Linked DNA regions of Homo sapiens: region 1 is linked to region 2. Evidence: fine-mapped expression QTL. Tissue or cell type: hypothalamus. Region 2 holds a variant in brackets; the other region holds the start of a gene. All regions are shown on one strand. Distances are from middle to middle.

Evidence for each region. PIP is the estimated chance that this variant, and not a neighbour inherited with it, causes the effect.
Region 1: it holds the start of MGAT3, and the variant in region 2 is fine-mapped to the expression of MGAT3 in hypothalamus (GTEx, PIP 0.97).

What each region holds. Positions count from the first base shown.
Region 1 is chr22:39,454,653-39,458,652 of GRCh38, reverse strand. MGAT3 (beta-1,4-mannosyl-glycoprotein 4-beta-N-acetylglucosaminyltransferase) reads right to left here and starts at 1,641. Exons shown (of 2, transcript NM_002409.5): 1 at 1,096-1,641. RefSeq lists an enhancer at 1-195 and silencers at 516-645, 656-925, 1,656-1,715.
Region 2 is chr22:39,316,601-39,322,427 of GRCh38, reverse strand. RPL3 (ribosomal protein L3) reads left to right here and starts at 2,805. Exons shown (of 10, transcript NM_000967.4): 1 at 2,805-2,833; 2 at 3,836-4,028; 3 at 4,799-4,967; 4 at 5,587-5,722. The coding sequence starts at 2,831. It overlaps SNORD43 (small nucleolar RNA, C/D box 43), which reads left to right and starts at 3,315; the gene lies at 3,315-3,376. SNORD139 (small nucleolar RNA, C/D box 139) reads left to right here and starts at 5,532; the gene lies at 5,532-5,586. RefSeq lists enhancers at 1,148-2,036, 2,201-2,620, 2,037-2,926, 3,011-3,060, 2,927-3,816 and 3 more. The variant G/A (reference allele first, on the strand shown) is at 2,825.

The DNA.
Region 1 (4,000 bases), 140 kb before region 2:
TGGGACCCCTCTTTCAAACCTTCCTAGGACCCAGAGCGGCTCCCCTTAGCACTCCTTAGACTGAAAACCCCCTCAGAGCTGCAGCTCCTGGGGGTGGGGGCTCTCCCCTCCATCCTTCTGCTGGGCTCCATGTCTGGATCTTTCATAACTGCTCCCCCTCCCCAAACGACACGCCAGTGCTCACAACTCCCCCATCAAGGCGAATCTGGACTGGTGTGTCCCAGGAATGAAGTGGGGAACCAGGGAGGAATCCCACTGGGGTAGTGTGTCTGCCCACACCCCATCAGGGGCCTTCAGGGGCATCTTCCGGGGCTGGGGGTCATCCGACCTCAGACCACTAGGTCTGGCCGCGCGGCATCCCTTCCTGCTGCACCCCAGCTCAGGAACCCCACCATACACACACCCAGGCGCACTCCCCTCCCCACTCCCGGTTCCAGAACTCACTATTTGCAGATATTTATAGCGCCCTCCCTCAGCCAGGTTCCCTCCCCCGCCCTGGGCAGAGCAATGCAAGGAGCCGGGGGCCCCCACCCCGGTAAATGGCCGGGGGCCCTCTCCACATTTGCCTCTGCCTGGTCCCCAGGGGTAGCTACGGCCGCAGCCCCCGCACCCGCCCAGCCCCCGACTGCGCTTGGGCCTCGGCTGCCGCCGCCGCAGTCTGGGGTCGGGGGTGGGGAAGGCGGGCGCGGAGGCCTCCCACCCCAGCCCCGCGCCGCGCCGGAGGTTGTGGGGGAGCCGCGCCGGAGGCTGGGGGGTGCCGCGCACAAAGCACGGCTCGAGCCCCGCGCCTCGGGGACGTCCCCCGCCCGGCCGTGGGAGGGGGTCGGGCGCTGAGGCTCTGCCCTCCGGGGACCGGGGAGCTCGGAGGAGCGGCGGGTAGGGGGAGGGGGCCCGCGCCGAGCGGCTTCCCCGGCATCCCGCCCCCACCGCGGCCTCCGGGCCCCCAGCCCCAGTGCGCCCGCGCCCGCCCCCTAAGGTCACGCTCGGGGAGTGGGCCGCGGAGCCGGGCGGGGGGCGCCAAGCGCAGCGCGGGAGGGCGGGCAGCGCGGGGATAGAGGGGCCGCGGCGCCCCCCAGGACGCCGGGGTCAACTCACCCATCGCCCGCTGGGTCTCAGCAACGGCGGCAGCAGCGGCGGCGGCGGCTCCGCGGCCCCCGGGGTCCCCGGCGGGGAGATGCTGGCGTCCGCCGCAGCCTCTCGCCCCATCCCGGGCTCCGGCGGCAGCGGCTGCGGCGGGCGCCCGGCATCGCAGGCAGCGCGGCCCCGGCCCGGCCCCGATCCCCTCCCCCCACCCCCACTTCCACCCCGTCCCGGGGACCCGGCGCGGCCGCTCGGCTGCACCCCGGGGCGGCGGCGGGGGCCCGGCGAGCGGACGGGCGCGGGGGAGGGACCGCGGCGGGCGCGCGGGGGGCGCGGAGGCGAGGCCGAGCGCGGCGCGCAGGGGTGCCCGCTCCCGCCGGCTCAAGCGGCTCCGGCCCCCACCCCGCCCCCTCCGCAACCCCCTCCCCTCCCCCGCCAGCCGGGCTCCGCCGCCGCGCCGGGCCGGGGGCGCCTCGCACCGCAGACTCCGGCCGCCGCCGCCCCGCGCCGCCCGCGCGTGCTGGATCGAGTGTGTGCGTGTGCGAGCGAGTGTGTGTGAGTGCGAGTGTGCGCGCGCCCCTCCTGTGACCGTGCGTGCGCCGGCCCACGGCCCGGGGCGGCCTGCGCGGGGGCGTGTGCGGGGAATGCGGGTAGTTCGGAGTGCGGGCCTGGTGTGCGTGCGGGGCAGCAAGTCCCGTTCTGTGTATGCGTGGACGGGTGCGTTCCGCAGCGTGCCCGGGTCGGTGTGACTCCGTGTGCCCGAGTCTGTGCCTGTGTGTGCATGGACGTGCAGATCCGTGTTGCGGTGTGTGCGTGGATGCGCCTGTGCCCGCGTGAACCTGGGCCGGGATTTCGCATAGGCATCTGTGACCATGTGCAGAGGCCTGGGCCTGTGATGTGTGCACGGTGCCGGGCCTGTTACGGTGTCTGCAGAGTCTGTGTGTCTGCTTGGGGCGTGGGTGACCGCTGTACACCGGCCTGTGTCCTTCCGTCCGACCCCCTCCGTCCCTCACATGCCCGAAGCCACCTGCGCACTCCTGGGGTAACTGGGGGGGCCTCCCCTCCCCCGCCCCCCTCACCCGGCCACCCTAGGCCCGGTCGGCCCTGCCAACCCTCTTGAGCCTACTCTCCTGCCACTTGCCCACCAGCGGTTCTCCGAGGGCCCACCGTGTCGTGCCCTGGCTCCTCGTGGCCTTGCTCTAGGCCATTCCTCTCAGGGCTCAGAGGCGTCCCCCACGTGTTTCCCGCCTTTCAAGTGGTTCCGTTCTGGGGCCTACAGAGCAGCCACTTCCTCCCGCGGTGCGAGGCACAAGGCATTGTGGGTACGCAGCAGACATCTCTGCGCCGCCATCGTCGAAGGTGCAGGGATGCGCTACCTATTCTATATCCCAGCGAATGTGCTCCAGAATAGTCCCAGAGGCCTTTGCTGAACCATCCGGGCTGCCTAGGGCTGGTCTACCTGCTCCAGGTGCCTCCGTGCCCAGCTTCATCCATCCTTGCTGAGGAGGCAGAGTGATCCTACTCCAACATTCACTTGAGCAGGTCACTCTCCTGCCTGCACCTTCAATGGCTCCCACTTGCCCTCAGCTTAAGTTCAGTGCCTGGGCGGGGCACAGGGAGCCCCTGGTGACCTAGTCTTGCCCCCTTCTTCAACGTCACCCTCACTGCTCTTTTCTTCCTGGAGGCTCTCTCTAAGCAAGGGTGGGCAAACCATTTGCTTTAAGAGATTGATTGTAAATCTTTTAGGCTTTGCCAGCCATATGGTCTCTGTCCCAACTACTCAACTCTGCCATCGTAGCATAAAATCAACCATAGACAATACGTAAAAGAATGAGCCTGGCGGTGTTCCAATAAAACTTTATGGACACAAAAATTTGAATTTCGTGTCATTTTCACGTGTCCAGAAACATTTTTTGATGTTTTCCCAACCATTTGAAAGTGTAAGATCCATTCCTAGTTCCTATCACTCTAAGCACATTCCATTATAACATCTCCATGGGCCGGGCATGGTGGCTCATGCCTGTAATCCCAGCACTTTGGGAGGTTGAGGCAGGTGGATCAGAAGGTCAGGAGTTCAAGACCAGCCTGACAACATGATGAAACCCCATCTCTACTAAAAATACAAAAATTAGCCGGGTGTGGTGGCACACGCCTGTAATCCCAGCTACTCGGGAGGCTGAGGCAGGAGAATTGCTTGAACCCAGGAGGCGGAGGTTGCAGTGAGCCGAGATCATGCCACTACACTCCAGCCTGGGCAACAGAGCAAGACTCCATCTCAAAAAAAAAATAAATCATCTCCATGACATGTGCTTAAGGTAATTGTCACTCCCCCAAAATCCAGTCTATTCTGCCCTGCAAAAATGTTGCCCTCCTCCTCTCCCCAGCCTGGCTGTTCAACCCTCTCTGCCCCTTCTTCTCCGGCCCCCAAAGAACCTTCAATTTCTGCTCAAATGTGTCCCCCTCCCCCAATTCCCCATGCCACAGCTCTCCCTGCCTGGGACTCATTCCCCTCTGGAAGGGACCGCCTCACAGACACTTTCCTTCCCCAGAACCTTCTCTCCCTCCCTGAGCCTTCAGCAGCAACTCTGGGCGTCCCTCAGCCCATGAAAGAAGTGCTGTTTCAAGTCTGGATTCTCCATTGAACTCGTTCTGAGCATCAAGAAAACCTTGACATTGGCCCCCAAGCACGAAGGCAGGCACAAAATAATCACATTCCTCCATTTCCATTGCTCCTGGCAAAGGGGAGGAGGACCTGCCCAAGCCCCAGCCCCTGCCCTTGAGGCCCAGTGAGAAGTAAAGACACGCCCCACTCCCCAGGGAAGCTGCCCTGCCCAGAGCTGGCCAGGGTCAGGGGACTTGCTTGCTCTCCATCTTCCCCCAGCTTGGGTCTTTGTTCTCCTGACCTTTCCAGATTCCCAAG
Region 2 (5,827 bases):
GCAATAGGCTGGGCGCGGTGGCTCACACCTGTAATCCCAGCACTTTGGGAGGCTGAGACGGGTGGATCACGAGGTCAGGAGATCAAGACCATCCTGAATAACACAGTGAAACCCTGTCTCTACTAAAAATACCAAAAATTAGCCGGGCCTGGTGGCGGGTGCCTGTAGTCCCAGATAGTTGGGAGGCTGAGGCAGGAGAATGGCATGAACCCGGGAGGCAGAGCTTGCAGTGAGCCGAGATAGTGCCACTGTGCGCCACTGCACTCCAGCCTGGGCGATAGAGCCAGACTCCGTATCGGAAAAAAAAAAGGGCGGGGGGCAATATGGGTAGGTTATAATCCTTTGTCTGCATCCTGAAATTTTTTTTTTTTTTTTTTTTTGAGATGGAGTTTTGCTTTTCTCACCCAGGCTGGAGTGCAATGGTGCAATCTTGGCTTACTGCAACCTCCATCTCCCAGGTTCAAGCAATTCTCTTGCCTCAGCCTCCCAAGTAGCTGCGATTACAGGCGCCCACCACCACCCCTGGCTAATTTTTGTATTTTTAGTAGAGACGGGGTTTCACCATGTTGGCCAGGCTGGTCTCGAACTCCTGATCTCAGGTGAACCACCCACCTTGGCCTCCCAAAGTGCTGGGATTACAGGCATGAGCCACCACGCCTGGTCTTGTTTTTTTTTTTTTTTTTTTTTTGAGACAGAATCCTGATTGGTCACCCAGGCTGGAGCACAATGGCACGATCTCGGCTCACTGCAACCTCTGCCTCCCGGATTCAAGCAATTCTCCTCCCTCGGCCTCCGGGGTAGCTGGGACTACAGGCGTGCACAACAACTGCTAATTTTTGTATTTTTAGGAGAAACGGGGTTTCACTGTGTTGGCCAGGCTGGTCTCAAGTTCCTGACCTCCAGTGATCCACCCTCCTCAGCCTCCCATAAGTGATGGGATTACAGGTGTGAGCCACCGTGCCTGGCCTGTATCCTGAAATTTTAAAAACCTTCTTAAATTATTTGGCAGCAAAAAGTAAACTGATGCATTTTTTGAGCAGCAAAGTCAGCCTTGAACTGATGTGAGTCTATTTATATTTGTCCCACTCCATGTGAATATTCATGTTTCCTTACGGAATATTGTTTTTCTTTAAAAAGTGCTGTATTACATAATATACAGTATGTGCACCATATTACCTTTCTAAAAATCAAAAAATGCTCAATTTTGAAACATATGTGGCCCCCAGGATTTCTAATAATGGATTGAAGATCTATCACTTATGTCCTTCGGGAATGGTGTGAGGATTGAGATAATTTTTTTTTTTTTGAGCTGGATTGCACTGGCGCAATCTCAGCTCACTGCAAACTCCGTCTCCCGGGTTCAAACGATTCTCCCGCCTCAGCCTCCCAAGTAGCTGGGATTACAGACGCACACCATCGTGCCCCGCTAATTTTTGTATTTTTAATAGAGACGGGGTTTCGCCATGTTGCCCAGGCTGGTTTCGAACTCCTGACCTCAGGTGATCCGCCCGCCTCGGTCTCCCAAAGTGTTGGGATTACAGGCGTGAGCCACCGCGCCTGGCCGAGAGAATGCTTTTCAAACGACGGTGGGAGCAAAGGCCAGGCCCAGAATTAAAGAAGATGACAGGGTGGGACAGAGGAAGCAGGTGATATGAGAGCGTGTGCTCTGGCGCAGCCATGAGGCTGAAGTAGACGGTTAGGGGAGCGTCTTTGGTGGCCGCTGAAGTTGATGCTTAATTCCGAGGAAACAACGAGGCGGCCATGGAAAGTAACGAGATACTTGATTCTTAGAAAGATTTGTAGGGGGCCAGGCGCGGTGGCTCACACCTGTAATCCCAGCACTTTGGGAGGCCGAGGCGGGCGGATCACGAGATCAGGAGTTCAAGACCAGCCTGGCCAACATGGTGAAACACCGTCTCCACTAAAAATACAAAAAAAAAAAAAAAAAAAATTAGCCAGGCATGGTGGCGCATTCCTGTAATCCCAGCTACTCGGGAGGCTGAGGCAGGAGAACTGCTTGAACTGGGAACCGGTAGGCGGAGCTTGCAGTGAGCTGAGATCGCGCCACTGCGACAGAGCGAGACTCCGTCTCAAAAAAGAGATTTGTAAGGGACCAGCCTGGAAGCAGGGAATCGGTCAGGATCCGAGTCACCCTGGAGCCTAGGCAGAGATCAGCGAAAGCCCTCGCTGATGCATAGGTCTGGAAGGCGTGGGGCTCCGGGAGGCTGAGCAGCTGGACTCGGCATGACCAGAGGTCGTGAGGCCGTTCCGCAGGCTTGGGACGCTCCTGACCCTCAGAATCAAGCGCGGGCCACTGCATTAGCATGGGAGAAATGGCAGAGATAGGGCTTGAGGGAGGGATGCCCGAGATTAAAGGTATTAAAGGTAAATTGGTGTCGCCGCAAAACCAGCGTGGGAGCCAGGAAACGAGAGTTTCAGTCTTTCTTCGCTAATTCCAGAGATAGCTGCATATCACAGGAGGAGAAGCGACGCAGCCATTTTTCTTCGTTATTATCAAATTTGGCTGCTGCCGGACGCCGTAGATTTGTGGCTCACCCACCCTTAGCCCACCTCTCCGCGGCTTTTCACTAAGTTTGAACCCGACCCCTCGCCGTAGAGTGTGTAATTTCTGTCTCCGAAGCTGACGTCAACTTCTGAACGAAAGCTAGGAGCGGAAGAGCGTGCGTGGAAATGGCGCTCGGTACGTGCCCCCGACCTGTCGTCTGCCGCGGGGGCGCGCTCGCACGCCGGAAGGGGCGGGGCCAGATTTGGCTTTATATAGCGGACCCGTAAGGCCGACCGGCCTCTACCGGCGGGATTTGAT[G/A]GCGTGATGGTATGTGTTGTAATGGCGGCCGTTTCATTGTCACCGGCGTCGGCACGGCTGAATCCGCGACGCATCGCCGCCATCCCGTCTTGGCCGGCGCCGGGGGTTTGCTTTAGGGGCACGGGCGACCCAGCGGGGACTTCAGTCTGGCCTATTTTCTGGAAAGTCGAGAGGCTTGTGAAGAGCGCTTGGAGGACTGGCTTTGGGCCTGCAGGTCGGCCAGAGAGAGGCCGTAAGGGTGGGAGCAGGCTTGGAGGCCCGGCGTTTTTAAAGCCATGAGTCATTTCTAAGTTTCGACCTCACCAATTCTATCATTAGTTGGGATTAGGGCCCATAACCTGCTTGTCTGGGTAGAAGGACCTTGGGTGGAGGTTCTCGGCGCCGTTCTCATTGGGAGGTAAAGAAGCTTGGGGGAGGGGAGTGTTGTGGAGTCCTCCTGAATATCTGGGGCCGCTGGTGCACTCCGAAGGCCTCTGGAGCTCGCAGAAACCACAGATGATGAACTTATTGACGGGCGGACAGAAACTGTGTGCTGATTGTCACGTTCTGATTTGGCTCTGCGGAGTTCTTTGGCCTGTGTGTATCAGTGTAATTAGTGTCCGGGCACCGGAGGCAGCCTATAGCTTAACATTGCTAGCTGCTACCCAGCGTTTGTCCCGGGAGTCCCTTTCTTTAGCGGTCAAAACCTTGCTAATTGGCATATAAAGCTGCCTGTTAAGCAGTTTTTAGTGCCACTACTTAGTGTATTTTTGTGTGGTTAGATAAAAAAAATGGGTCGTTTTCTTACAGGTTGAGAGGATTTGAAATAAGATTCAGCTTAAATTTTGTCGAATACAAAAGCATTCTTGACACGTGCGAGCCTGGAAGAGATAATGACCTTTTTATTCGGCTTGCTGGGTGTCTGGTCAGGATTCTTCAGTATTGCTGAGATTTGGAACTTAAGCAGCTGGGAACTAGAGAAGGGGGCACTGCTTTGGTTTGGGTGCTGACGGTGATTTTTTTCCCACCTAGTCTCACAGAAAGTTCTCCGCTCCCAGACATGGGTCCCTCGGCTTCCTGCCTCGGAAGCGCAGCAGCAGGCATCGTGGGAAGGTGAAGAGCTTCCCTAAGGATGACCCGTCCAAGCCGGTCCACCTCACAGCCTTCCTGGGATACAAGGCTGGCATGACTCACATCGTGCGGGAAGTCGACAGGCCGGGATCCAGTATGTACAGACATCCTAAAAGTTGGGGGAATAGGAGTGGAGGGGGAGGGAAATTGTAGAGATGGAGTCAAGCTGTTAGCAGAGGGCAGACTTTTTTTTTTAAGCAGGAGTTACACGTTGTCAGAACTGCTGCGACAGCAGAATGGGAATGCTTAACTTGAAAACTAATATTCCAAGGCTACAGATGGTCAGCACTGTTTGCTTTAGGTGCGGTGTGGGGTATTGATTTCAGAGCATAGTAAATTTGCCAGGAACCTTAGCAAAGAGAAGTTAACACTAGTGTGGGGGGTTGGAGCTGCTGAGGCTGGCATAAGAACTGCCTCATTCATGTTTTTTTCACCTGAAAGCTTGAATAATGGCCACTTACCTGTGTGTGTTCTACTTAGAGATGTCTAACAGCACTGGTTGCTGAGCCATGGAGACATTAATGTTAGGCAGTTGATACTGACTAATCTCTGAGCTCAGAGCTATTGTTAGGGCACTGAATTTTCCAGATAAATAGCAATCTTGTCTGCCTCCAGAGGTTTCTGTAGAAGAGAATTGAAGCTGGACAGGTATTTGGCTGTCTAGGGTCCTGATATTTTTTGTTTGAATAACATAAATGTGCTTTGAATGAGAGATAGGCAGTAAGGACAGCCCTGTGAGTCCGTACTGCAGGTGTGGGGCCCAGTTGCCCTTCCGGCCTAAATGGGCACTTTGCATTTTCCTAGAAAACATTACACCCCTTGCTTGGGCTCCTGCCAAGTCTGACTACTGCTTTTTTTTTGCAGAGGTGAACAAGAAGGAGGTGGTGGAGGCTGTGACCATTGTAGAGACACCACCCATGGTGGTTGTGGGCATTGTGGGCTACGTGGAAACCCCTCGAGGCCTCCGGACCTTCAAGACTGTCTTTGCTGAGCACATCAGTGATGAATGCAAGAGGCGTTTCTATAAGAATTGGTAAGGGAGGAGGCCATGCAGTCCCTAGCTTGGGAGCTTGGGAGCTGGAGAGCAGGGAGCAGCGTGTGCATGGTTTCTCAGCTCTGTAGCAGGCAGGGAGCTGCTGTCTTGGGTTTAGTTTGCCTCTCGAACAGAAAAATACCTGGGATCAGACTTGGCCAGCCATCTGGTTTCAGCCGGAAGCTAACACCCTCATTCTGAGTCCAGGCTAGTGGGTGGTGGCTGAGGACCCAGTTGGTTGAGGAGTCCAACTAGAAACCAGGAGAGGTAGCAGAATAATTAAACCCCTATAGGGGTGGCAAGGGCCTCTGGCCCTGGGTGGAATGTCCCATTTCCTTCATCACTGAGTGGGCTTCCCCAGGGCAGAAAGGTTTGTCCCGGAGCAAGAATTTTGTTTGAATGCGTGTAACTTAAATTAACCTTGTGGACCTCTGCTCAGCTCCGCTCGGCTCTGCCCGATGAGCTCCATCCAGGCTCCGCTTGCTGGTGGAAAAGGCTCCTTAGAAGCCGGCAATGAGCTCCATCCCCACGCGGTGCCAGTGTGCCTTCCGCTCACCCCTCGGAGGGGTGATGAAGGCCTGCACCTGGTCCCCTCCCCAACTCTGCTCTGCTCCTGAAGGCATAAATCTAAGAAGAAGGCCTTTACCAAGTACTGCAAGAAATGGCAGGATGAGGATGGCAAGAAGCAGCTGGAGAAGGACTTCAGCAGCATGAAGAAGTACTGCCAAGTCATCCGTGTCATTGCCCACACCCAGGTGAGCCCAGTGCCCCGGGGTGGCTTGGCCTGCCACTTAGTAGAAGTGACCTATGTGATCATGGGGGTCCCGTGCCCGCACGCTTATGGGTAGGCTTCTCCCTTG